7 linked regions of the Homo sapiens genome follow. The protein of the gene in region 3 purifies or fractionates together with the protein of the main gene of each other region. This does not show direct contact. Each region holds a gene or a part of one and is shown on either strand. Other genes may lie near its edges.

Region 1 (3,500 bases), on a different chromosome or scaffold from region 3:
AGTCACCTAATAGTAAGGTCCAAAATGAGAATTACTATCTCCAGAAGAGGGTGGAGGAGGCAGTGGTGGAGGGGGAGGGGGTGGGGGTAGGGAGTATGGTAAGTTAAGTAATGGATGAGCAGCCATGTTTGGTGTAGCCCAACCCATGTTTACAGGTGGGGGTGGTGGTGGGGGTGGAGGGCGGAGGGGAAAATTATGCATGTCAAACACTGGAAGAGGAAAGGGGTATTGTGGCATAATGGGATTATTTTGTCTCTGAGAAGGAAATCCTGAAGTCTCCTGAGATACCATATGTTCTGAGTTATAGAAATGCTGAGGTGGAGGCCTGCCATGGCAAGATCGAGGGTATCTGGCCCTGGAAAATCCTCGTGTGAATTCTCTGTTACGATATCCTTTTGCATGCTCTGAAGCAGAGCTATGAGCATTCCAATTCTGATGTACTTCAGTAAAATCTTCACCTTTGAGTGAGGGGAGGGAAAACATAAAAAGGAAAATAAGTTTAATATATCAAAAAGCATTGTTTGAAATTTCAATTATGATTTTTATTATCCAGTATATCTTGTGGCAGTTAAAAAAGTGTAAGACATAAAATGGTAAATTTGAAATGAACTGAAAAGACAAAACTTAATGCCAAAGAAAGAGAACCCAGCAAGTCAGAAAACACTTAGATGATAACCATTCTACTCTAGCCAAACACCACAGAAGAAAATGTGGCACCATCCCTACACACTCTCAAAGGCTGAGTACAGATCCTAGACTTCTATCCTTGACAGGCAGTAATGAGGTACTCCAACCCTTCCACCACAGTAGCATCAGGAACAGGCTGAACAGGGTGCCAGTAACAAGCCTCCCTGCAAACAATGAACATCACATGGGGAACCTGAACTTCCACCTCCACTGGCGGCAACCCAGTGTTCTTCCCTCTTTTACACTGGGGCAATGTCAGAGAAGATGGAGTAGAGTTAGGATTTTTGTCCCCAACCAGTGATAACAAGGCCATCCTCCACTGGTGTCAGTGCATACCATATGGGGAGGAGTGACAAAGTACTCCTGTCCCTACCAGGCATAAGACCTCGTGGGATGTCAGAACTTCTACCCTCATCCAGCAGTAACAAGGCACCCCTTGGCCAAAGGTGTCAACAGAGGCTAAGAGGAATACCTAGACTTCAATCTACCCTGTTCCTTTCGCTGCCAGAGTAGCATTTTTAAAAAGACAAAGAAACAATCACAACAAACCCAGCTAAATCAGAAGATTTACATAAGATCCATGGTCTTGTAATATAATACTCAATATACCCAGGTTGCAATAAAAGAAAATTGCTCATCACAAAAAGAACCAGGAAGACTTCAAATTCAATGAAAAAAATAAATCAAGCAAGGGTGTCACAAAGATGTTAGAATTATGAAAGGTATTAAAGCAGTCATAAAAATGCTTCAACAAGATATTATGAACATTCTAAAAAATTAAAATTACAAAGTTTTAGGAAAAAAAGAAGATATAAAATAAAGAACAAATTGCAATTTTAGAACTGAACATTACAATAACCAAAATTAAAAACTCAATGGAACAATATTGAAGGAGAAGAACAAAGCTGGAGGACGGAAACTACCCAACTTCAAGACGTATTATAAAGTTTAAGTAATCACAGCAGTGTGGTACTGGTGAAAGGACACACAAATAAATCAATGGGACAAAATAGAAGGTACAAAAATAGACCCACATAAACATACAAAAATAGACCCACATAAACATAATAAACGGATATTTAACGAAGGAGCAAAAGCAATACAACAGAGCATAAGTAGTGTTTTCAACAAATGGGGCTGGAACACCTGGACATCCACATGCAAAAAGAATAAATCTAGACAATAACCTTACACCGTTCACAAGAATTAATTCAAAATGGACCACAGACCTCAATGTAAAATGCAGAATTACAAAATTCCTAAAAGATAACATAGAAGAAAATTTAGACAACCTTGGGTTGATAATGACTCTTTTTTTAGAGACGGAGTCTCGCTCTGTAGCCCTGGCTGGAGTGCAGTGGCACGATCTCAGCTCACTGCAACCTCCGCTGCCCGGGTCCCAGCTGACGCAATTCTCCTGCCTCAGCCTCCCAAGTAGGAATGCGCCACCATGCCCAGCTAATTTTTGTATTTTTAGTAGAGATGGGGTTTCACCATGTTGACCAGGCTGGTCTTGAACTCCTGACTTCCTGATCTGCCTGCCTCGGCCTCCCAAAGTGCTGGGATTACAGGCATTGGGCCACTGCGCTCGGCCAATAATGACTTTTTAGATAATGACTTCTTAGATAGGACATCAAAGGCATGACCCATGAAAGAAATAATCAATATGCTGAATTTCATTAAACTTAACAATTTCTGCTCCACGAAAGATACTATCAGGAGAATGAAAGAAAAAAGCTCAGAAGTTCAAGGTTACAGTGAGCTATGATTGTACCACTGCATTCTAGCCTGGGCAACAGAGCAAGAATATCTCAAAAAACAGACAAAAACAAAAACAAAAACAAAAAAACCTCAGCAAGACATTTGTTGATGTAGAGAAGATTCTAAAATTTATACTGAAAGGTAAAGGACCTAGAATACCGATTATAATTTTGAAAAAGAGAAATAAAGTAGGAGTTATCACTCCACGCAATTTTAAGACTAACCTCACATTCTATACAAAATTTAACTCAAAATGAATCACAAGTGTACAATTTAAAACAGAAGACTACAAAACTTTTAGGGAAAAAATAGAAGAAAATCATTAGGATCTAAAGCTAAGCAGGAAGTTCTCAGATTCCATAAACAAAATTGATAAATTAGTTTTCCTCAAAACTAAAAACTTTAGTATTGCAAAAGGCCATCTTAAAAGAAGGAAAAGACTACAGACTAGAACAAATCATGAACGAACCAAATATTTGACAGAAAGCTAGTATCTAAAATATACATTTTTAAATTCTCGTAACTCGACAGTAAAAATCCAGCAATACAATTTAAAAGTTGGCAAAAGATAATGAACTGACATATCACTGAAGATACCGATAGTAAATGAACACATGGAAAGATGTTCAATGCCATTAGCCATTAGGAAAATGCAAATTAAAACCACAATTATATTAGCACTACAAACCTAGCAGAATGGCCAAAATTAAAAACAGTGATAACACCAAATGCTGGAGAAAATGCAAAGAAATTGTCACTCATACATCGCTGATAAAAATGTAAAATGGTATAGCCATGCTGAAGAACAGTATGGTAGTTTCTTAGGAAACTAAACATGTAATGCAACTATTATACAACCAAGCAATTATACTCTTGGGCATTTATTCCAGAAAAATGAAAACCTCTTTTCACAAAAAACCTGTATATAAATATTTATAGCTGCTTTATTCCTAATAACCCCAAAATGGAAACAACCTAGATGTCCTTCAATGGATGAATGGTTAGGTAATCTGGTAAATTCATGCCATGAAATGTTACTCTGTAATGAAGAG
Region 2 (3,500 bases), about 58 Mb from region 3:
AATAAATGAGCTTTCTCTATTCTTCAACCACAGTCTCTTACAGACTCAGGCCCTCACCCCCAATAATGTCAAAATCACAGGTCCTACCTTGTTCCCAGAAGCATCTTTTCCCTTCCCTTCTTCCTCCACATGAAAGCGGAGGTTCTCCAGCAGGATGACAGACCCAGCAGCTGGGTTGGCACAGGCTTTCTCCACTTCTGGGCCTACACAGTCCTTCAAGAACAGAACATCCCTGAGAAGAGGAAGAGATGAAGACACTTGAGCAGTATGAAAGTTAAAAACCAGTAACAACGTGCTTGACAACTTCCCCCGCCACAAAGTCTACCAGCACCAGAGCCTGGCACTTACTTGCCCAGCAGAGATTTGAGTTCTACAGCAACTGGCTCTAAGGAGTACTTGTCAGGCATGGGCACACCATCAGGCCGGCCTAGGTGGCTCATAAGGACTACCGACTTGGCTCCATTGTCCAAGCAGAATTTGATGCTTGGGACAGCAGCCTTAATCCTGCAACCAAAGAGAGACAACAAACAGAATGAAGTTACTCCTAGAAATTAGTGGGAACTAGCTTATTGATAACCTCATAAAGCATAAAGCTCCTTTTCTTCTCCAAGTTCCTTCAAATCTACTATCAGTAATTCAATGGTGGTCCTTAAGAAGTTAAATGCAATGCCAACCCTCCACCTAGGATTGTACAATCTCATTATGTATCTGCCCCTTTCACAGACAAGAGTTAACACAGCAGGCCTGAGGCTACTATCTACAGAAGGACCTGTCTGCAAGATTAGATCCTGGCTGGTATCTGGGAACTTGGCTTTCAAAGTTAACTGACAAGACCAACAAGGGCTATTCACTCTTCCTAGACCGTCTATACAAACATGGTGATTTATGCTGAACACCTGCCCCACTCTAGAAGTCTAGAATTTTTTTTTTCTTTTCCTTTTTTTGTTGAGACAGGGTCTCACTCTGTCACCCAACAGGCTGGAGTGGAGAGGCACAATCTCAGCTCACTGCAGCTTCAACCTCCCCAGGGGCTTAGGTCATCTTCCTACCTCAGCCTCCCAAGTAGCTGGAACTACAGGAATGCACCACCATGCCCAGCTAATTTTTGTATTTTTTGTAGGGGTTTTACCATGTTGTCCAGGCTGGTCTTGAACTCCTGGGCTCAAGTTATCTGCAGGCCTCAGCCTCCCAAACTGCTGGGAATACAGGCGTGAGCCACCACACCCAGCAGAAGTTTGTAATTTTGGTAGTTGCTAGGCAGAGGATCCCTATGTTACCAGTTCCCAACAAAAATCTTGGGATCTGAGTCTCTAGCATGCTTCTCCAGGCAGAAACACTGCAGACAATTACTGCATTTTTCACTGCTGAAGAAAGGAAAACACTTGATGTGTCCCCTCACAGGAAACTGGAAGCCCATGGATTTCTCTAGACTCCCCCATGTCTTTTCCTCTTCCTAATCTTGTCATGCATTCTTTCACTGTAATAAACTTTAGCCATGAGAACAACTCTGAGTCCTAGCAAATCATCATGAGATATGTGGGTGATCTTGGGGACCCCTGAAAACACTTCTTATATGACTATGGAAAATACATAAAATTCTCAAATCTTGAAACCATCAAAGGAAATTTGGGGAAAAATAAAAAACATGTAGTAACTTTTCTGCACCTATTAATAGATCCTAAGTCACTTTTTTATGTAGGAAAAAATAATTGCACTGTCTAGAGCTTGGTTTCCATAATGTATCACATTCATTACATTATAAATTAATCAAAAAATTAACTCCCTTTAAACATTTAAAAGTTTTGTTATAAACCTGCTACTAACTTGCCATTTTGCCAGTTTATAAGAAATTAAAATTGATCAAGAAAAGCATTTATTTATTCATCAAATATTTATTGAATGCTTCTTTTGTGCCAGGCATCATTCCAGGTTCTGAGAATGAAACAGAAAACTTTTTTAAAAACTCTCTGTTCTCATGGAAGTGAAATTCTAATGGAGAGAGACAATAAACATGTATGTGTGTGTGCGTACATGTAATATATCAGATGGTGAGATACAGAAAAAAAACAAACCATTGTTCCCCATTTTTGTTCCCCTACTTTTGAGGACAAAAATGACCGGGGAACAATGGTAGAGGAGATTTTTAGACAGGATGGCCAGGGAAAGTCTGATATGATGACATCTGAGCAAAGAATGGAATGATTAAAAAAGTTATACTTTTAAAATATCTTATGTTATTAATATTTAGCAGATATAAGAACTCCTTTATATCAAATTTAAAAATCTGTATCAGGTACAAAGTTTGTGCAATGGAACCAATTAGTTTTCAGGACTATCCCTTATCAGCAAGTTTTATTATTTCTAATGCTTCATTTTGTTAATCAACTCCATGGATTTCCGGAAATGAAAAGATTTCCAAACATGTTTCTTTACTCTTAAAATAACTTGATAGGCATATTTCCAATCGTTTCTGTGTGTTGCACAATAATGAAGATCAAGCGGGATCAGATCTGCCTTATACAAAGACCCTGCCACTATGGTACAGCAGGGATGTGCTTGGCAAAATGACAGGCTCTATTCTAGGACCAATACCTGAAAATGTTCTGGGCTAGACCTGCACTGTCCATTACGACAGTCATTTAGTCATGTGTGTCTGTTGAGTACCAGATATATAACTAGATCAAATTGAGATGTGCTGTAGTATAAAAACACATGCCAGATCTTGAAGACTTAGTACCAAAAAAGTTAAATGTCCCTTTAATTTAATTAACACAATTTGGCTCACATTGTATTTCTATTAGATACCACTGGTCTAGATCATTAGAAAGCACCTTGCCAACACAAACCCTTCATTTAAAATTTAAAATAGGCGGAGCACAGTGACTCATGCCTGTATTCCCAGCACTTTGGGAGGCCAAGGTGGGCGGGGTCCAGGAGCTCAAGGCCAGCTTGGGCAAAAGGGCAAAACGCTGTCTCTACAAAAAAAATATGAAAAAGTAGCCAGGTGTGGTGGCCCACGCCTGTGGTCTCAGCTCCCTGGGAGGCTGAGATGGGAGGATCGCTTGAGCCCAGGAGGCAGAGATTGCAGTGAGCCAAGATCGTGCCACTGCACTCCAGCCTGGGCGACAGAACGAGGCCCTGTCTCAAAAAAAAAAAAAAATTAAATAAAAACCTTCTTGATGGATACCCCATTTAACCTGATGTGATTATGTATTGCATGCTTTTATCAAAATATCTCATGTAACCCATATATATATATATATAAAATCTACAAAAATTAAAAATTAAAAAAATTAAAAAGAAAGTAAAGACAAAAATAAAGACCTTTTATAATCTAGTCAAAAGCAAGAGCAGTACTCTCACTTAAAATTTGTTTCTGAATCTAGGATCCAAGACACTGGAGCAGCTAAACTGACTGAAAACGTACTTCTGAAGTCTTTCCTGTTTGTTTTTTTGGAAGCAAAAACAAATGAAAATTCTCAAAAATTGACTTATCTGAG
Region 3 (3,500 bases):
CAAGACCAGCCTGGCCAACATGGTGAAACCCCATCTCTACTAAAAATACAAAAATCAGCCAGGCGTGGTGGTGCACGTCTGTAATCCCAGCTACTGGGGAGGCTGAGGCATGAGTATAGCTTGAACCCCGGAGGTACAGGTTGCAGTGAGCCAACATTGCACCCCTGCACTCCAGCCTGTGTGACAGAGTGAGACTCTTGCCTCAAATAAATAAAATAAAATAAAATAAAAGGCAGAGGCAAAATGATCCCAGTATCTGAAATCCCCAGATGAAATGTTTTTCAGGGCAACTGTTGTCTGATTATACAAACATTCCAATGAGACCCTTGAAAAATCTCTAATTCTTAGTATTTATGAGTTCAGAAAGATATACCTTGAGGCTAAAAAATATATTTAAATTGTATTGGTTTTTAGGTACTTTATCATTATAAAAAACAAACTGCACTCAAATACATAAAACTACTCAACTCTGTTACAATCATAAATTTTACTGATATTGTTTAAAAAATATGTGGTTATCAATTTTACCTACACTTGTAAAAACAATGAGACATCACAACTAAATGCTTTTATGATATTTAATTAGTTTAAGCATGGTGTTAGAAGTGTCATTAGAATTTACTCTGATAAAAGTATTTATCATTTTGACTAATTTCTTAAAACTAGTATATTTCAAAGTATATTAAACAAACAGAATAATAATAGAAACTTGATGACATTATGTATATACTACATACAACTACAGTAAATACAATTATAAAATCCTGTCATTTCTAATTCCTATAACAAACCTGTATAGAAAAATTTAGCTCCTGGTACCACTGATTTCAATCCACACAGAAGTAAACGGTTCTGGTACATAAGCCTAAACTATCTTATTTAATTTGATGTTCAACGTTTTCCAAACAGATGGCTTCTCTTAGCTCATTTAAGCCCTTATTATATTACAAATAGACACTCTGGAAAATTAAAATCCCCACCACTGCTAAATCTAAACCTATTGTATAGATTGCTAAAGGTACCTGATGAGCTAATGAAATTATTTTAAAATAATGTGTAGGCACACTTGACAGAATAAAACTAGATGGCTATTACCAAAAATATACTCTAGAATATATGGAACCTTTCAAAAGGGAAAAAAATTACAAACTTTTGTTGCATAGACAGCTTCTTCTTATAGTCTTTGCACTTCTTCTTCTTCTTTGAGGCATCATATTCTCCCTTCAGTTGAAACTTTGCCACCTCAACATGTAATTTGTAGCCTCTAATTTCATCTTCATCCAAAAGTTTTAATGCAAGTTCCACAGATTCTCTCTTTATAAATGTAAGACAAAATATAGTCAGTTATACAACGAAATAAAACTTCAGGAGTTTTTTAGATGAACGATGATTATACATAAAATAATTTAAATTCTTATATTTATATATTATGAATATACGAGATCTCGTTCTCTCTTTGAGATAAAGAACTCTAGAATCTGAACCAGGAAACCCGCATCTGAGACACAGCTGTCCCTAACCGGCTGTGTGAACTTGGGTAAATTATTCAAGCTTCCTGAGCCCCAATATCGTCGTATGTAGAATGGAAATAGTTAATACCTTCATCACAAGGTTCTTGACAAAATTAAATGAAATAATGCATGGAAAGGATAAGGACTAACATATGGTAGGTGTTCAATAAATATTATTATTGGGTAATTTTGTCTCTTGAGGCCACAATTTCTCATTTGCAGAATGAAGGGAGCAAATCTGCATGATTTCTAAGGTGTATTTCTTTTAAAATTCTATAATACTCTTACTTAAAAGACTAGATGACTCAAGGAATTGGGAACACCATAGACAGCCTTTAATTTTTTGGTTCATCCATTAAATTGTGAGTCTGTAATACACTGAGAAGTAGAAGACAATTATCTGATGACTTGTACTTTATATTAAATACATGTATGGATTCCAGGTCTTAGAGAAAGGACAGTTATCAGCCCTATACAAACAGAGTCAAAGATCAGAGGACCTGTAGAAAAGAAAAATGGATAACTGAACTCAGCTGCTCACATATATGGGTCCTGGAATAATTCACTATATTTTCCTGGAACTCAATTTACTGTTTTGACAATCTTGTACTTCTATGGGTCTCAAAACTCAATTTTTTTCCTTTAAAAATTTAAAAAATCTAACAGAACTCCCTAAGAATCTGTTCGCAGATTTTTTAATAATCCTTAAAGAACTTATAAAACCCTCAAATCTCCTTACATTTGAACATTACAAAACTACCATCCTAAAATGGTCATGCTCATGTCCCATAACCATCACGTTTAAGATTCAGGTCAAAAACCTATTTCCCAAAAAGCTGTCAGCTTAATCCTACTCTCTTCTGATCTCACTGGAATACTGTATACTCACAACACACCTGTGGTGTTTGTACTTTTGCTTTACCATTTTGACTTTACTCTGTAATTATTTCCAGGTTTGACTTATGTACATGTCATCATTTGTTCTGTACCCTGTGATAATGTATAACACATGCTCCTAAGGTGGCAGGTGTTCCAGAAATGATGGCTGCCTCTGGCATTGAGGTTTCTTTGTGTAATTTATGGTACTATGACTACATGAAGTTCTGCAAATTTCTCTTAATACCACTCTCTCTTTTCTCACATTCAAAAAAATATTTTAAAGCAGTAAGAATAAGCTATCGTCTCCTTCATGGTCTAATTCAAGGGTCAGAAAAATCCTTTTGTTAAAGGGCCAGTTCGTAAATATTTTAGGCTTTGTAGGCCACAAGGTCTGTGCTGCAACCACTCAACCCTATCAGTGAAACACAAAGGCAACCATAGACAAATGCATAAATGAATTAGTGTGGCTGTGTTCCATAAAGCTGTATTTACCAAAACAGAGCCCGAGTTTGCTGAACCCTGGTGTAATTCATTCCAATGGACAACTAAAATGTTACTGGCTTTTTTTCTTCTTGAATTTTTAAAATGTAGTCTGAATTGACTGTACACATCAATAAAAAAATCTTTCTAGTGAGAATTTTTCAAGACAGAAGAAGCACTCCAGTCGCATACTTATATAATACTTTTACCTGATAACATATTTTCTTAAAACAAGTGAATAATCTTACCAATGTGATACACACAGGTACTAACTGAAATTTCAGTTTTCTTCATATCCTGTTTTGAACAGTTCTTGGTGTTGGTTATCATCTATAGAAATTATAGCCCTGGTTCCTGAGTTAAAAACGAAGATACAAGAAACTTATTTGATCATACAACTTACTTTCAAATAACAGCAAAGACCGTCTCCTTTAAGATTTCCTTGATTATCTTTGTAAAGTTTGACCTTAAATTCTTCTGTCTGAGGATCTCTCATAATAATGCCAAACTTGGACATAAGTTGTATAAATTCATCCACTGTAATATCTGGAGGCAAACCTGTCATTTAAGAAAAATTAAAAAACATTTATAATTGATAATGAAGGTGAATTACTTAGCATTCTACCAATT
Region 4 (3,500 bases), on a different chromosome or scaffold from region 3:
CACTGCACTCCAGCCTGGGCGACACGGTGAAACTCCATTTCAAAAAAAAAAAAATAGAACAACACACAGGTAGCCCAGGCAGCTACTGTACACCTGGCCAAGTGACTGTTTGTACCAGGGACAGTGGGCACTAGCTATTCTAAAGAAAATAGGAGTTGGGCGTGGTGGCTCATGCCTGTAATCCCAGAACTTTGGGAGGCCAAGGTGGGTGGATTACGAGGTCAGGAGTTCGAGACCAGCCTGGCCAATATGGTGAAACCTCATCTCTACTAAAAATACAAAAATTAGCCAGGTGTGGTGGTGCGCGTCTATGGTCTCAGATGCTTGGGAGGCTGAGGCAGGAGAATCACTTGAACCTGGGAGGTGGAGGTTGCAGCGAGCCAAGATTGCACCACTGCACTACAGGCTAGGCGACCGAGCGAGACTCTGTCTCAAAAAAAAAAAGAAAGAAAAGAAAAAGAAAATAGGATATGGAGGCAAAAGCAGATCCATCAGGGCTCTGCTTGGGAGGCTACAATGTGGTCACTGCAAGCTTCACCTGCTGAGGATCTGCCACAACAGAGTGAGGAGGCACAACGAAAGGAAGCAGCATCAACTCCGTGAACACCACTTTACGTTTTAAGGACAAGCAGGGCCTCCCACGATGGGCAACTCTCAGGAGTCCCTCCAGGCAAACACTCACTACATGCCACTTGCTATGCCTGGAGCAACCCAGACTCCTTGATGGACATCCCAGCTGGGTCCCTTCAGGAGGAAGCCTTCATCTAGACTGGCGTTTAGGGACTCCCCAAGACCTGCCCTTTCTGAAAGAACACCCCAACTCATTTCCATCCCCAGAAGGGATGAGATCATGGTTGACAAAAGAAATTTTAAGGAGAGAGAGAGAGAGAGAGAGAGAGAGAGAGAGAGAGAGAGATCCTTAAAATTTATATATTTATTATTATTAAATATATACATATATATGTAAAAATAAGATATATGTACATATATATTTTTGAGATAGAGTCTTGCTCTGTCCTCCAGGCTGGAGTGTAATGGTGTGATCACAGCTCACTGCATCCTCGACTTCTTGGGTTCAAGTGACTCTTCTGCCTCAGCCTCCGGAGTGGCTGGGACAACAGGCATGTGCCACCATGCCCAGCTAATTTTTTCTATTTTTGTAGAGATAGGGTTTTACTATGTTGCCCAGGCTGGTCTCAAACTCCTGGGGGCTCAAGCCTCCCATCTCAGCCTCTCAGAGTGCTGAGATTATAGGCATGAGCCACTGCACCTGGCCCCAAGGACATAATTTTTAAAAGAAAAAAGGACATGGTCACAGTATGTGATATTTATGGACCAAAAATAGAAAACAATTTAACACTCAACTTTAACGTAATAGTTAATCAGATTACACCTACCTACTCGGTGACATATCATGTAAGCATATAAAAAGAATTTACTATGCCTTATGTGGCACAAGGAAATGCTTCTAACATAAAATAAAGCAGGACCAGCCAGGCGCAGTGGCTCACACCTGTAATCCTTTTGGGAAGTGGGGCAGGCAGATCGCTTGAGCCCAGGAGTTTGAGACCAGCCTGGGCAACATAGCAAAACCCCATCTCTAGAAAAAATACAAAAAATAGCTGGGCATGGTAGGGCATGCCTGTAGTCCCAATTATGCAGGAGGCTGAGGTGGGAGGGCTATCTGTGCCCAGGAGGTGGAGGTTGCAGTGAGCTGAAATTGTGCCACTGTGCTCCAGCCTGGGGGACAGAGTGAGATCATATCTTAAAAAAATAAAATAAAATAAGAGCAGTACCCACAATTCTATCCACCTATAAATTATTAAACTACACAAAATCAGTAAGCTGATAAAAATTAAACATTAATATGGTAGGATCTTGGTTGACTGTTTTTCAAAATGTTATTTAAATGTTATATTGTTCTTGCAATTCAAGCCAGAAGGAAAAATAAATCCATCTCTATTCTTTCACAATTGTGTATGTAAAAAAATCTCAAACAAATCTACAAAAGAGCTACTAGAATAAGTGAGCTTAGCAAGGTTTATTACAAGGTCAATCTGTAAGTCAAATTTCAAATATTACAAGGTAAACCTACAAATCAAATAGCAATCAAATTTCTATATATCAGCAATGAATGGAAAGTTTTTAAAAGTACCATTTCCTATAGCACTAAAAGCATGAAAAACTTGGCGTAAATCTAACAAAGTATGTGTAGGATCTGTGTTGAAAACTACAAAACACTACATCAGTGAAGTGACATACTGCACTCATGAATCAGAAGACTTGATATTGTTAAGATGTCAATTTTCTCAAACTAATCTATAGATTCTACAGATTTGATAGATCTATAGATCCAAGGCTCTCTCACTCAAAATCTCAGCATGAATTTTTTAAAAAACTTCATAAACTGATTCTAAAATTTATATGCAAAAGCAAAGAAACTAACAATTTTGGAAAAAAGAACAAACCTGGAGGACTCATATTTCAAGATTACTATTAACCAGTAATCAAGACTGCATTGCTGGGCGAGGCGCAGTGGCTAATGCCTGTAATTCCAACACTTTGGGAGGCCGAGGCAGGTGGATCATGTGAGGTCGGGAGTTTGAGACCAGCCTGGCCAACATGGTGAAACCAGTCTCTACTAAAAATACAAAAAGACCGTGCTGCTGAACGAAATTTAGATGTACAGACCAATGGAACAGAATGAGAGTCCAAGAGTCCAGAAATAGACCCACAGTATATGGTCAACTGATTTTCAGTAAAGGTACGAAGGCAATTCAATAGAGAAAATATAGGCCTGGCACAGTGGCTCACACCTGTAATCCTAGCACTTTGGGAGGCCAAGGCGGGTGGATCACCTGAGATGGGGAATTCAAGACCAGCCTGGCCAATGTGGTGAAACCGTCTCTACTAATAATACAAAAATTAGCCAGGCGTGGTGGCACATGCCTGTAATACCAGCTATTTGGGAGGCCAAGGCACAAGAATAGCTTGAATCTGGGAGGTGGAGGTTGTGGTGAGCTGAGATCGCGCCATTGCACTCCAGCCTGGGCAACAAGAGCGAAACTCCATCTCAAAAAAAAAAAAAAAAGAAAGAAAGAAAGAAAGAAAGAGGCCGGGCGCGGTGGCTCACGCCTGTAATCCCAACACTTTGGGAGGCCGAGGCGGGAGGATCACGAGGTCAGGAGCTCGAGAACATCCTGGCAAATACGGTGAAACCCCGTCTCTACTGAAAATACAAAAAGATTAGCCAGGCGTGGTGGCGGGCAACTGCTCGGGAGGCTGAAGCGGGAGAATGGCATGAACCCAGGAGGCGGAGCTTGCAGTGAGCTGAGATCGCGCCACTGCACTCCAGCCTGGGGGACAGAGTGAGACTCTGTCTCAAAAAAAAAAAAAAAGAAAGAAAAAATGGTTTTGTTTTTGTTTTTGTTTTTTAAACAAATGGTGCTGGAACAATTATATATTTATATGCCATAGAAGAATAAGAAACCTTAACCTAT
Region 5 (2,790 bases), on a different chromosome or scaffold from region 3:
TGCCTGGGTTTGTTTTTTGTTTTTTCCAGAGACGGGGTGGAAGGTGTCTCCATATGTTGCCCAAGCTGGTCTCAAAACTCTTGGGCTCAAGTGATCATCCTGCCTCAGCCTCCCGAGTAGCTAGGACTACAGGTGGGTGCCACTATGCACTTTTATTTTGTAGAGACAGAGGTGGAAAGTGTCTCCATATGTTGCCCAAGCTGGTCTCAAATTCCTGGGCTCAAGCATTTCTCCCACCTCAGCCTCCCAAAGTGCTGATTACAGGAGTGAGCCACGACACCTGGCCCTTGTGCTCACTTTTAAGCAACCCTGCCAACAATAGAGCCTTCTCCAGGACTATGCTAGTAAGACACTTGTTCAGTGTCGTTTTGTAGGACAGAGAAAGCTAACTCAAACCACATTGCCACTATCCCGTCAGAAGTCTTATTCACTTTGCCAAGCCAAACTATTTCACAGAACCTCCCATATTAAAAACACAGAGAAAGAAAACACAGATAACATGGTGTTGTGATCTTTATTCCATTAAATGATCTTACAAATTGGAGTAAAACAGAAACATGCTTTTAATATACTAATAGCATAATCTCATCCCATTGCACTTTTTAAAAACTATATTAAGTTTCAAAGCCACTCAAAGGCAAGGGTCTAGCAGACAGTACTTTTAACAAATCATTTTTTAAAATAAAAAAACCTGAGGAAAATTTGTGTATGTACAAGATTAGTATTAACTCCTTTAAGGCTTACATCCATGACAGCATGTATCTAATTAGAAAGCTATGGGAATCAATGCTACCTTCCCTTGCTCATAAAAACATTTAAACTGTAGTTCTGGCACACGAAATTTGCCCCAAAGAAAAATGTCTTTCAAAGCCCTTCTGTCCCTAGATCTGTTTTGCAAAGTTTCTGATATGGGGTACTTAGGTCACTAATGACAGGAATTAGGATCTTGTCTTCTTTCTTGTTCATTATTTTTATTTGTGGCTTAATGTTTCACCTGTATGTGAAAGATTTGGGGGTTCAAGTCACAGTGCTGAATTTTACTTTTTAAAAGAAAAACTATCAAAAATTGCTTTTAAAAAATCCTAATTACATTAGAAAATAGGATACCTGTACATTCATTTTTCAGAGAAGGCACTATGACAATGGAGAAAAACAGCTTTAAAGAGCTTAGATAATCCTCTGAATTAAAGGCATTCTTACTACTTCTGAACACAGAAAACGCCTGGGGATTGTACTGGCAAGAGACCACCTATTCTAAACCTCAGGTACAAAGTGTCCACTTGCCTCCAGACAATACTGAATTGTACTTTCTCCTTGGTACTTCCCATTCGATGAAGCAGTCTCTCTCTGTGGTCTCTGAACCACTATTTATAAAAGTGATGACTCCAGGACCACAGCCCATACCACCTGAGGCAATCCCTGGGTACAAAGCTAGGAATCTGAACTTTTTAAACAAGCCTGCTAGGTAAGTCTTATGCACTCCAAGGTAGATGAGAACCACTACCCTAAACATAGCTACAACAGGACTTACAGCAAGAAAAACCATTTGACTGCAAATATTATTTTACAATGGGCTTCTTAATGTCATTTTTAAAAATTAATCACACAAATAGTTTGTACTTTCATAACTGAAGCTTGTCTTCATTATGCCCTTATCCCTTGACTAGAATTTTGTTAAATAAAACATATGTAAGCCAGAATGACACAGCCATGTTGACAACTTGAGATGGAAGATCAAATCATCCTAAATTACATTTCAATAGTTCCAGGAAAGAAAAAAGTCCTGTGAAGACTTCCATGTAAGTTACATCATTTTTTAAAAGAACCTAGCAAAAAATTAAAAACTGTTTTATTAAAGTTTTAATTTTTAAAAAATTAAAAAATTAAAACTGTTTTATTGCTTTTGCATGGACTTGATTCAATCTACTTAATTTTGCTATAACTCATACATACATACATACTTATCCAAACTCACCCTATCCAAGGCACCATTTTACAAGCCAAGTAGAACACTGTGTGTGATCCACTAATGAAACCAACCACCAGTACAAGGCAGTATTTTTGTGTGTTTGACCAAAGCGCTTTACTTCATGTAAGAGAAAAAATAAAGCAAAACAAGGCCAGGTTCCAGTGGCTCACGCCTGTAATCCCAGCACCCTGGAAGGCCAAGACAGGCGGATTCCCAGAGGAGTTGAGACCAGCCTGGTCAACATGGCGAAGCCCTGTCTCTACTAAAAATACAAAAATAAGCCGGGTGTGGTGGCACATGCCTGTAATCCCTGCTACTTGGGAGGCTGAGGCAAAAGAATCACTTGAACCCAGGAGGCGGAGGTTGTAGTGAGCCAAGATTGCGCCACTGCACTTCAGCCTGGGTGACAGTACAAGAGTCCGTCTCAAAAAAAAAAAGGAATAAAGCGAAACACAGGCAATTTTACCAAGTATAAAAGAGGTGTTAAAACGTAAACTTCCATAGAACATTTCTTGGTATACTACGAAAATAAGGCATGACTCAGCTGGGCGGGGTGGCTCATGCCTGTAATCCCAGCACTTTGGGAGGCTGGGGGGAGTGGATCACCTGAGGTCAGGAGTTTGAGACCAGCCTGGCCAACATGGCAAAACCCCACCTCTAGTAAAAAAACAAAAATTAGCCAGGCGTGGTGGTGTACACCTGTAGTCCCAGCTACTCAGGAAGCTGAGACAGGAGAATCGCTTGAACCTGGGAGGTGGAGGTTGCAGTGAGCGAGATTGCACCACTGCACTCCAACCTGGGCGACAGAGCGAGACCTCTGT
Region 6 (3,500 bases), on a different chromosome or scaffold from region 3:
ATCTAAGCTCCCTGCTATGGTCTGAATGCTTATGTCCCCCAAAATTCCAGTGTTGAAATCCTAACCCCCGAGGTGATGGTATTAGGAGGTGGGGCCTTTAGGAGGCGATTAGGTCATGAGGGTAGAGCCTTCATGAATGAGATTAGTATCCTTATAAAGGAGTGCTCACAGAGACCCTCGCTCCTTCCACCATGTGAGAACCAGTGAAAAGGTGCTGTATATGAACCAGAAGGCAGGCCCACACCAGTCACCAAACCTGCCCGCTCCTTCATCTTGGACTTTTCAGCCCTCAGAACTGTGAGAAATACATTTGTTATTTATAAGCTACCCAGTAAGATACAGGTTGTGTATCCCTCATCTGAAATAACTGGGACCAGAAGTGTATCAAATTCCAATTTTTTTGGATTTTGGAATATTCGTATATATATAAAATGAGATATCTTGAGGATAGAACACAAGTCTAAAGACAAAATTCAATTACACTTCTTTCGCCTTATCATACACAGCCTGAAGGTAATTTTATACAATATTTTTAATAATTTGTGCATGAAACTTTTTGCACATTGTATACTTGAACCATCAGAAAGCAAAGGTGCCACTATCTCAGCCACCCTGTGGACAATCTGTGGTTGGCTGGCATCAGCATCCTTCCTGACTCTGAATCTATATGCTACTGATAAGCAATCACTTTCTTACACTTACTCACATGTAAGTATTTAACAGTAAAAATTACATGTATTTTATTTGTCTTTGTGGGTGTGCTTACGTGGTGAAATCTGGGAGTGCTTGGAAATATTTATATCACAGCTGAAGGGGGCTGGGAACATCTTTTTTCCCATGGGAATGCTGAATAAACTGTGTGTTATATGCCTTCATTCTGACTGTGACCCATCACATGAGGTCGGATGTGCAATTTTCCACCTGTCATGTCATGTCGGCGCTCAAAAAGTTTTGGATTTTGGAGCATTTTAGACTTCAGATTTTTGGATTAGGAATGCTCAACCTGTATTTTGTTACAGCAGCCCAAACGACACTCCCTTAATACTATAATCCACATGATTGTGTACAGTCTTTTATCCTAACTCTCTGCCACACTCAAATTGAGAGCCACTATACTAAATAAATAACTAAAAGCAAAGTTCCAGGATGGATGTGGTGGCTCACACCTCTAATCCCAGAACTTTGAGAGGCCAAGGTGGGCAGATCACTTGAGTCCAGGAGTTTGAGACTAACTGGTCAACGTGGCAAAACCCTGTCTCTACCAAAAAAAAAAAAAAAAATTTGCTGGGCATAATGGCACATGCTTGTAGCCCCAGTTACTCGGGAAGCTGAGGTGGGAGGATCACCTGAGCCCAGGAGGTCAAGGTTGAAGTGAGCCACGATTGTGCCATTACCCTTCAGCATGGGTGACAGAGTGGGATCCTGTCTTAAAACTTTAAAAAGCAAAATTTCCAGCCAGGCACAGTAGCTCATGTCTGTAATCCCAGCACTTTGGGAGGCCAAGGTGGGTGGATTGCCTGAGCTCAGGAGTTCAAGACTAGCCTGGGCAACATGGTAAAACCCCGTCTCTACTAAATACAAAAAATTAGCTGGGTGTGGCAGCATGTGACTGTAGTCCCAGCTACTCGGGAGGCTGAGGCAGGATAATTGCTTGAACCCGGGAGGCAGAGGTTGCAGTGGGCCAAGATCGCACCACTGCACTCCAGCCCAGGCAACAGAGCAAGACTCCATCTCCAAAAAAAAGGCAACATTTCCATACAAGTGTCTGGGCATTATGACTATAAGACAACATTAAATATCTGTCTGTGGCCGGGTACAGTGGCTCACGCCTGTAATCCCAGCACTTTGGGAGGCCGAAGCAGGTGGATCACTTGAGGTTAGGAGTTTGACACCAGCATGGCCAATATGGTGAAACCCTGTCTCTACTAAAAATACAAAAATTAGCCAAGAGTGGCAGCACACGCCTGTAGTCTCAGCTACTCAGGAGGCTGAGGCAGGAGAATCGCTTGAACCCAGGAGGTGGAGGTTGCAGTGAGCCGAGATCGCACCATTGCACTCCAGCCTGGGTGACAGAGCAAGACTCTGCCTCAAAAAAAAAAAAAAAAAAAAAAAACTGTCTGTAAATTAAGGGAGAGATCAGTAGAGAATTTTATAGTGTTTCTGCTTATTTCAATTGTGGTGTTAATTATTAAGCCACTATAAATCTTAGAACATTGTGAGGTTTAAATGAGATAAAAAAAATGTGAAAGCCTTATCATATGGCATGGTAGGCATCAACTGTAGGATCTGAATCTAGACCTTATGAACTTGACTCTAAAATTTACTTAATCAGACCCAATGCAGTTTTTTAAAGCACTCCAAACAAGTCCTTGGACACTTGCTTTTGCTGTCTTCCCAAATTAGCACTTTCTACCGCTGCCCTAATGAACAACTGTGATCTTCCTATCACTTCATAAGGTTCTAAAATCAGCACACCAGTGAAATACAGATATGATGACTATACTGCACTTCTCTTAGGAAACACAGAAGTATAATAATCATTGATGTTAAGGTAGAAATAAAATATACCAGCTCTAAAATATGCATAGCCAATTTTCATTATTTATAGTAGTCATGTTTCATACGTCCCTGAATTACGTCAATGAATTAGTGAATACTGAACCATTCCTCCTAGTGGGGATACATACATATCTTCATCTCACATAGATTATAATCTTTTTTTTTTTCCTTTTTTTTGGGACAGTCTCACTGTCACCCAGGCTGGAGTGCAGTGGCACGATCTTGGCTCACTGCAACCTCCACCTCCCGGTTCAAGCAATTCTCCTGCCTCAGCCTCCCAAGTGGCAGGGACTACAGGCACACACCACCATGTCTGGCTAATTTTTGTATTTCTAGTAGAGACGGAGTTTCGCCATGTTGGCCACTCTGGTCTCGAACTCCTGACTTCAGGTGATCCGCCCGCCTCAGCCTCTGAAAGTGCTGGGATTACAGGTGTGAGCCACCGCCCCTGGCCATATTATAATCTTAAATCCAAAAAACAACTCCTCCTGGTAGAGTTTATTTCCTTTATTTTACAAAAGAGAAAATGAAGTCTAGAAATGCTAAGTGACCTGCATGAGGCTGCCCCAGGGCTGAGATTCAAACCCCAGGAGAGCTGGAGCTTCCTGCACTGTACTGCCCTGCCCTTATACTGCCTCCATCCTCTGCCCATTTCTGCATGACAGCTGGGAAGCTCGGCTGGGAACGTAAACACAGGGAAACTCAAATTTTTCCTGCTCTATGTATGTCCACAAATGATAGCCAAAGCTTCATGGGTATTAATATTGGGGTTACAAATAAGCTTTGGCAAGTAGGCAAACTTGCAAATAGGAAACTCAAAAATAATAAGGGTCTACTGTATCTGTTTTTAATTCAGCTCATTTACTATTTAGATAATGACTATCAAAAGAGCTGACAAAAGCAATTTGATCAAAATGGGAGTGGAGAGAGCATCATGTGTA
Region 7 (3,500 bases), on a different chromosome or scaffold from region 3:
GCCCTTACGTCTCTCCCACAGATGACTTGGCGTATTTCTTCATGTAATACTCGCCCAGTTCTTCTTCTCGCTGGTCCCTGGAGCACGAGTGGGGAAGCAAACACGAATTGAAGGTTGAGGACAGCAGGTGGGCTGACCTACTCCCAAATCTCCCCACAGGAGCCAATCCCACCACGTTTCCCTTCCTTGCCCACCTCCAGAGGTTTTGCAGGCGGCGAGCCCCAGAACGATCTTCATCCAGGACAACATTATCGATATTGGAGGCTGAAAAATAATGGGCAGAGGGCGTGAGCAAGGGCAGGTGGAGGGCAGGGGCCTGGAGAAAATAGGAGCGTGCAGCTAAGAGGGCCAGGGTTTGGCCCTGGGGCAGGAAGATGACATCTCACAGAGGAAATCCCAACCCCTCATCCCCTACTCTGTCCTACTCAGCATCCTGCTTCTTGTCAAAAAGACTGGGGATGGGGCCCAGCAAGTTGGGGGGCTTCCAGCTGTTCCCATCTCAAAGTCCAGGCACACCCTGGACTGCACCCCACCCCACACATCGCTACCACCCACAAATGCTCAGTCCCAGACAGACACATCCGTGCTTTCCCAGGTCAACAACTGGGGTATACCTGGCCCCAGAACTCCCTGACTCTGGATCCTACATGGGTCAGAGCCCTCAGGGCCAGACCGGGGCTGGTGGGGAGGCTACCGGTGAGGGCAGGTGCCTCAGGAAGGAGGAAATGTCAGGATATGGGAGGAAGGTCAGGGAATCACACTTTTCATATTCTTACCTTCAATCTCTTCTACTTGGAGGAAGAGGAGGTGGTGGTGGTGGTGGTGGTGGTGGTGGTGGTGGTGGTGGTGGGCGAGGGCAGACAAAGTATGAGCCAAATTATAGCAGCAAAATCAACCAATGGGTTGGGGGAGGGGAAGGGAGGGACACAGAAAGGTTGAAAACCAAAAGTAAAGGCCAGGCACCAGGTGGTTGGGGAGAAGCCGAAATGTATGAGGCGCACAGAACGGAAAATAACGGGGAAAGGGGGGCACTGGCCCAGGAAGTGGGGGGTATCTTGGGACAGAGCTCGCCCACCCTACAACCCCAGAAGGGATTCACTGGGCCCTGGGATCCCAGAGTCCTCTCCCCACAACATCCCCACCCCAGGGCCCCACCCCCCACTCATGGGCCTAAAAGGAAAAAGCAGGGAGCTGGTCTCTCTGGGAAGGACAGAAAGAAGCAAGGTGAGGACGGTGGGAGTTGGGGTGTACAGGGGATGCGGGGGTCGGGGGAATGGGCTCTGAAGACCCTCTCAGCCACCCTCTTCCCAGTAGTCTTGTGGAGGCAGGGCTCACACACACCTTTCTCTAGAATGTCCTCTGCTCCATCCTCCCACTGGTCCTCGTCCTCATACTCATCGTCAACATCTAAAACGGAAAGGCCAAGTGGTAAGTGGCAAAGGTGACCTCATAACAGCTCCCAGGACACGAAGCATCTCCTCTGGGAGATGTGCACTACAAATCCCCACCGCACAGAGCAGGACACTGAGGCTCCAACAGGGAGGCACTCGTCTGGGGCCGTGCCACAGAGCTGGTGCACGCATCAGGATCGAGGGGGACATACAGCTCCAACTAACTCTAAAAGTCATCCCCTCTCCTTACTCCACTCCCAAATCCCTTTTAAAAAACTAAGATCAAAGTAAGCAAAAAGAAAAGTTCCCTCCCAACTATCAGAAAATGATCAATAAATAGTTTTTTAAAAGATGGTTCATGGTCTGTTGGTTTTATGATTCTTGTACATTTATAACAGCTAATGCTGAGAGCATACTATACACCCTGCCCTGTTCTGAGTACCTGACACAGGTTCCTCACTGATCTTCCTGGCAACCCCGAGGGAGGCACTATCGTTGTTCCTATTTTACAGCAAAGGCTCTGAGACCCAGAGAGATTAAGGAACTTGCCCACAGACTCAGCTGGGATCTGAGAGAGGCAGTCTGGCTCCATGGTCCATGTACTTAATCTCTTTACCATGTTGGATGTACTGCTTTGCAGGTATCAAACATTACACTAAAAACGTAATACATGCACATAATGAAAAACTCCAATGTCCATAGAGGATGTAAGTATCAATTAAGTCTCCCTCACATTTCTAACCCCTAGAATCTCAGTAACCTCTCCCAAAGGCAACTCCGTGACTAGTTTCTTGCCTAGAGATATCTGTGTACATATATGAAATCCATGTAAGGCTGGACGTGGTGGCTCACACCTGTAATCTCAACACTTTGGGAGGCCGAAGTGGGAAGATCACTTGAGCCCAGGAGTTTGAAACCGGCCTGGGCAACATAGTGAGACCTCCTAAATCCAAAAACTTAAAAAATTAGTTAGGGTTGGGCACGGTGGCTCATGCCTGTAATCCCAGCACTTTGGGAGGCCGAGGCGGGTGGATCATGAGGACAGGAGCTCATGATCAGCCTGGCCAACATGGTGAAACCCCCGTCTCTACTAAAAATACAAAAAATTAGTCAGGTATGGTGGTGGGCGCCTGTAATCCCAGCTACTCGGGAGGCTGAGGCAGAGAATTGCTTGAACCCGGGAGGTGGAGGTTGCAGTGAGCCAAGATCACACCACTGCACTCCAGCCTGGGCAACAGAGGGAAACTCCGTCTCAAAAACAACAACAACAACAACAACAACAAAAAAAAACAGTCTAGTCAGGCCTGGTGATGCACACCTGTGGTCCCAGCTACTCAGGAGGCTGAGGTGAGAGGATCACTTGGACCTGGGAGGTAGAGGCTGCAGTGAGCCATGATCATGCCACTGAACTCCAGCCTAGGAAACGGAGTGAGATCCTGTCTTTAAAAAAAAAAAGAAAAAAGAAAAAAAAAAGGTCTGGGCACAATGGCTCATGCTTATAATCCCCGCACTTTGGGAGGCCGAGATGGGTGGACCACCTGAGGTCAGGAGTTCGAGACCAGCCTGGCCAACATGGTGAAACCCCGTCTCTACTAAAAACACAAAAATTAGTGGCACACGCCTATAATCCCAGCTACTCGGGAAGCTGAGACAGGAGAATCCCTTGAATCCGGGAGGCAGAGGTTGCAGTGAGCCGAGATCACACCACTGCACTCCAGGGTGGGCAAGAGAAACTCCGTCTTAAAAAAAAAAAAAAAAAAAAAAAGAAGAGGCGGGGCGCAGTGGTTCACGCCTGTAATCCCAGTACTTTGGGAGGCCAAGGTGGGTGGATCATGAGGTCAGGAGTTCGAGACCAGCCTGGCCAACATGGTGAAACCCTGTCTCTACTAAAAATACAAAAATTAGCTGGGCGTAGTGGCAGGCACCTGTAATCCCAGCTACTCGGGAAGCTGAGGCAGGAGAAGCACTTGAAACCAGAAGGTGGAGGTTGCAGTGAGCTGAGATTGCACCACTGCACCCCAGCCTGGGTGAAAAAGCGAAACTCCATCTCAAAAAAAAAAAAAGAAGAAAAGAAAAGAAATGCATGTAATCCACCCCGCCACCACTATG

What was found.
Region 1: the proteins of HTATSF1 (region 3) and NAF1 fractionate together in Homo sapiens (co-fractionation; one large-scale study listed by BioGRID). This does not show direct contact.
Region 2: the proteins of HTATSF1 (region 3) and PGK1 fractionate together in Homo sapiens (co-fractionation; one large-scale study listed by BioGRID). This does not show direct contact.
Region 4: the proteins of HTATSF1 (region 3) and AKAP8L purify together in Homo sapiens (tandem affinity purification; one large-scale study listed by IntAct). This does not show direct contact.
Region 5: the proteins of HTATSF1 (region 3) and ATL3 fractionate together in Homo sapiens (co-fractionation; one large-scale study listed by BioGRID). This does not show direct contact.
Region 6: the proteins of HTATSF1 (region 3) and POP1 fractionate together in Homo sapiens (co-fractionation; one large-scale study listed by BioGRID). This does not show direct contact.
Region 7: the proteins of HTATSF1 (region 3) and SUPT5H purify together in Homo sapiens (affinity purification with western blotting; 2 studies listed by BioGRID, with this or other methods). This does not show direct contact.

The regions. Positions count from the first base shown.
Region 1 is NC_000004.12:163,128,891-163,132,390, forward strand, and holds part of NAF1 (H/ACA ribonucleoprotein complex non-core subunit NAF1), read right to left. Parts: intron 459-3,500; coding exon 7-458; 3' UTR 1-6. UniProt on the Homo sapiens protein: RNA-binding protein required for the maturation of box H/ACA snoRNPs complex and ribosome biogenesis.
Region 2 is NC_000023.11:78,110,748-78,114,247, reverse strand, and holds part of PGK1 (phosphoglycerate kinase 1), read right to left. Parts: intron 505-3,500; coding exon 349-504; intron 233-348; coding exon 88-232; intron 1-87. UniProt on the Homo sapiens protein: Catalyzes one of the two ATP producing reactions in the glycolytic pathway via the reversible conversion of 1,3-diphosphoglycerate to 3-phosphoglycerate.
Region 3 is NC_000023.11:136,500,592-136,504,091, reverse strand, and holds part of HTATSF1 (17S U2 SnRNP complex component HTATSF1), read right to left. Parts: intron 3,429-3,500; coding exon 3,274-3,428; intron 1,315-3,273; coding exon 1,151-1,314; intron 1-1,150. UniProt on the Homo sapiens protein: Component of the 17S U2 SnRNP complex of the spliceosome, a large ribonucleoprotein complex that removes introns from transcribed pre-mRNAs.
Region 4 is NC_000019.10:15,405,489-15,408,988, forward strand, and holds part of AKAP8L (A-kinase anchor protein 8-like), read right to left. Parts: intron 1-3,500. UniProt on the Homo sapiens protein: Could play a role in constitutive transport element (CTE)-mediated gene expression by association with DHX9. Increases CTE-dependent nuclear unspliced mRNA export.
Region 5 is NC_000011.10:63,623,587-63,626,376, forward strand, and holds the end of ATL3 (atlastin-3), read right to left. Parts: 3' UTR 501-2,790; downstream 1-500. UniProt on the Homo sapiens protein: Atlastin-3 (ATL3) is a membrane-anchored GTPase that mediates the GTP-dependent fusion of endoplasmic reticulum (ER) membranes, maintaining the continuous ER network. It facilitates the formation of three-way junctions where ER tubules intersect.
Region 6 is NC_000008.11:98,123,793-98,127,292, reverse strand, and holds part of POP1 (ribonucleases P/MRP protein subunit POP1), read right to left. Parts: intron 1-3,500. UniProt on the Homo sapiens protein: Component of ribonuclease P, a ribonucleoprotein complex that generates mature tRNA molecules by cleaving their 5'-ends. Also a component of the MRP ribonuclease complex, which cleaves pre-rRNA sequences.
Region 7 is NC_000019.10:39,455,582-39,459,081, reverse strand, and holds part of SUPT5H (transcription elongation factor SPT5), read right to left. Parts: intron 1,408-3,500; coding exon 1,342-1,407; intron 789-1,341; coding exon 777-788; intron 265-776; coding exon 195-264; intron 78-194; coding exon 9-77; intron 1-8. UniProt on the Homo sapiens protein: Component of the DRB sensitivity-inducing factor complex (DSIF complex), which regulates mRNA processing and transcription elongation by RNA polymerase II.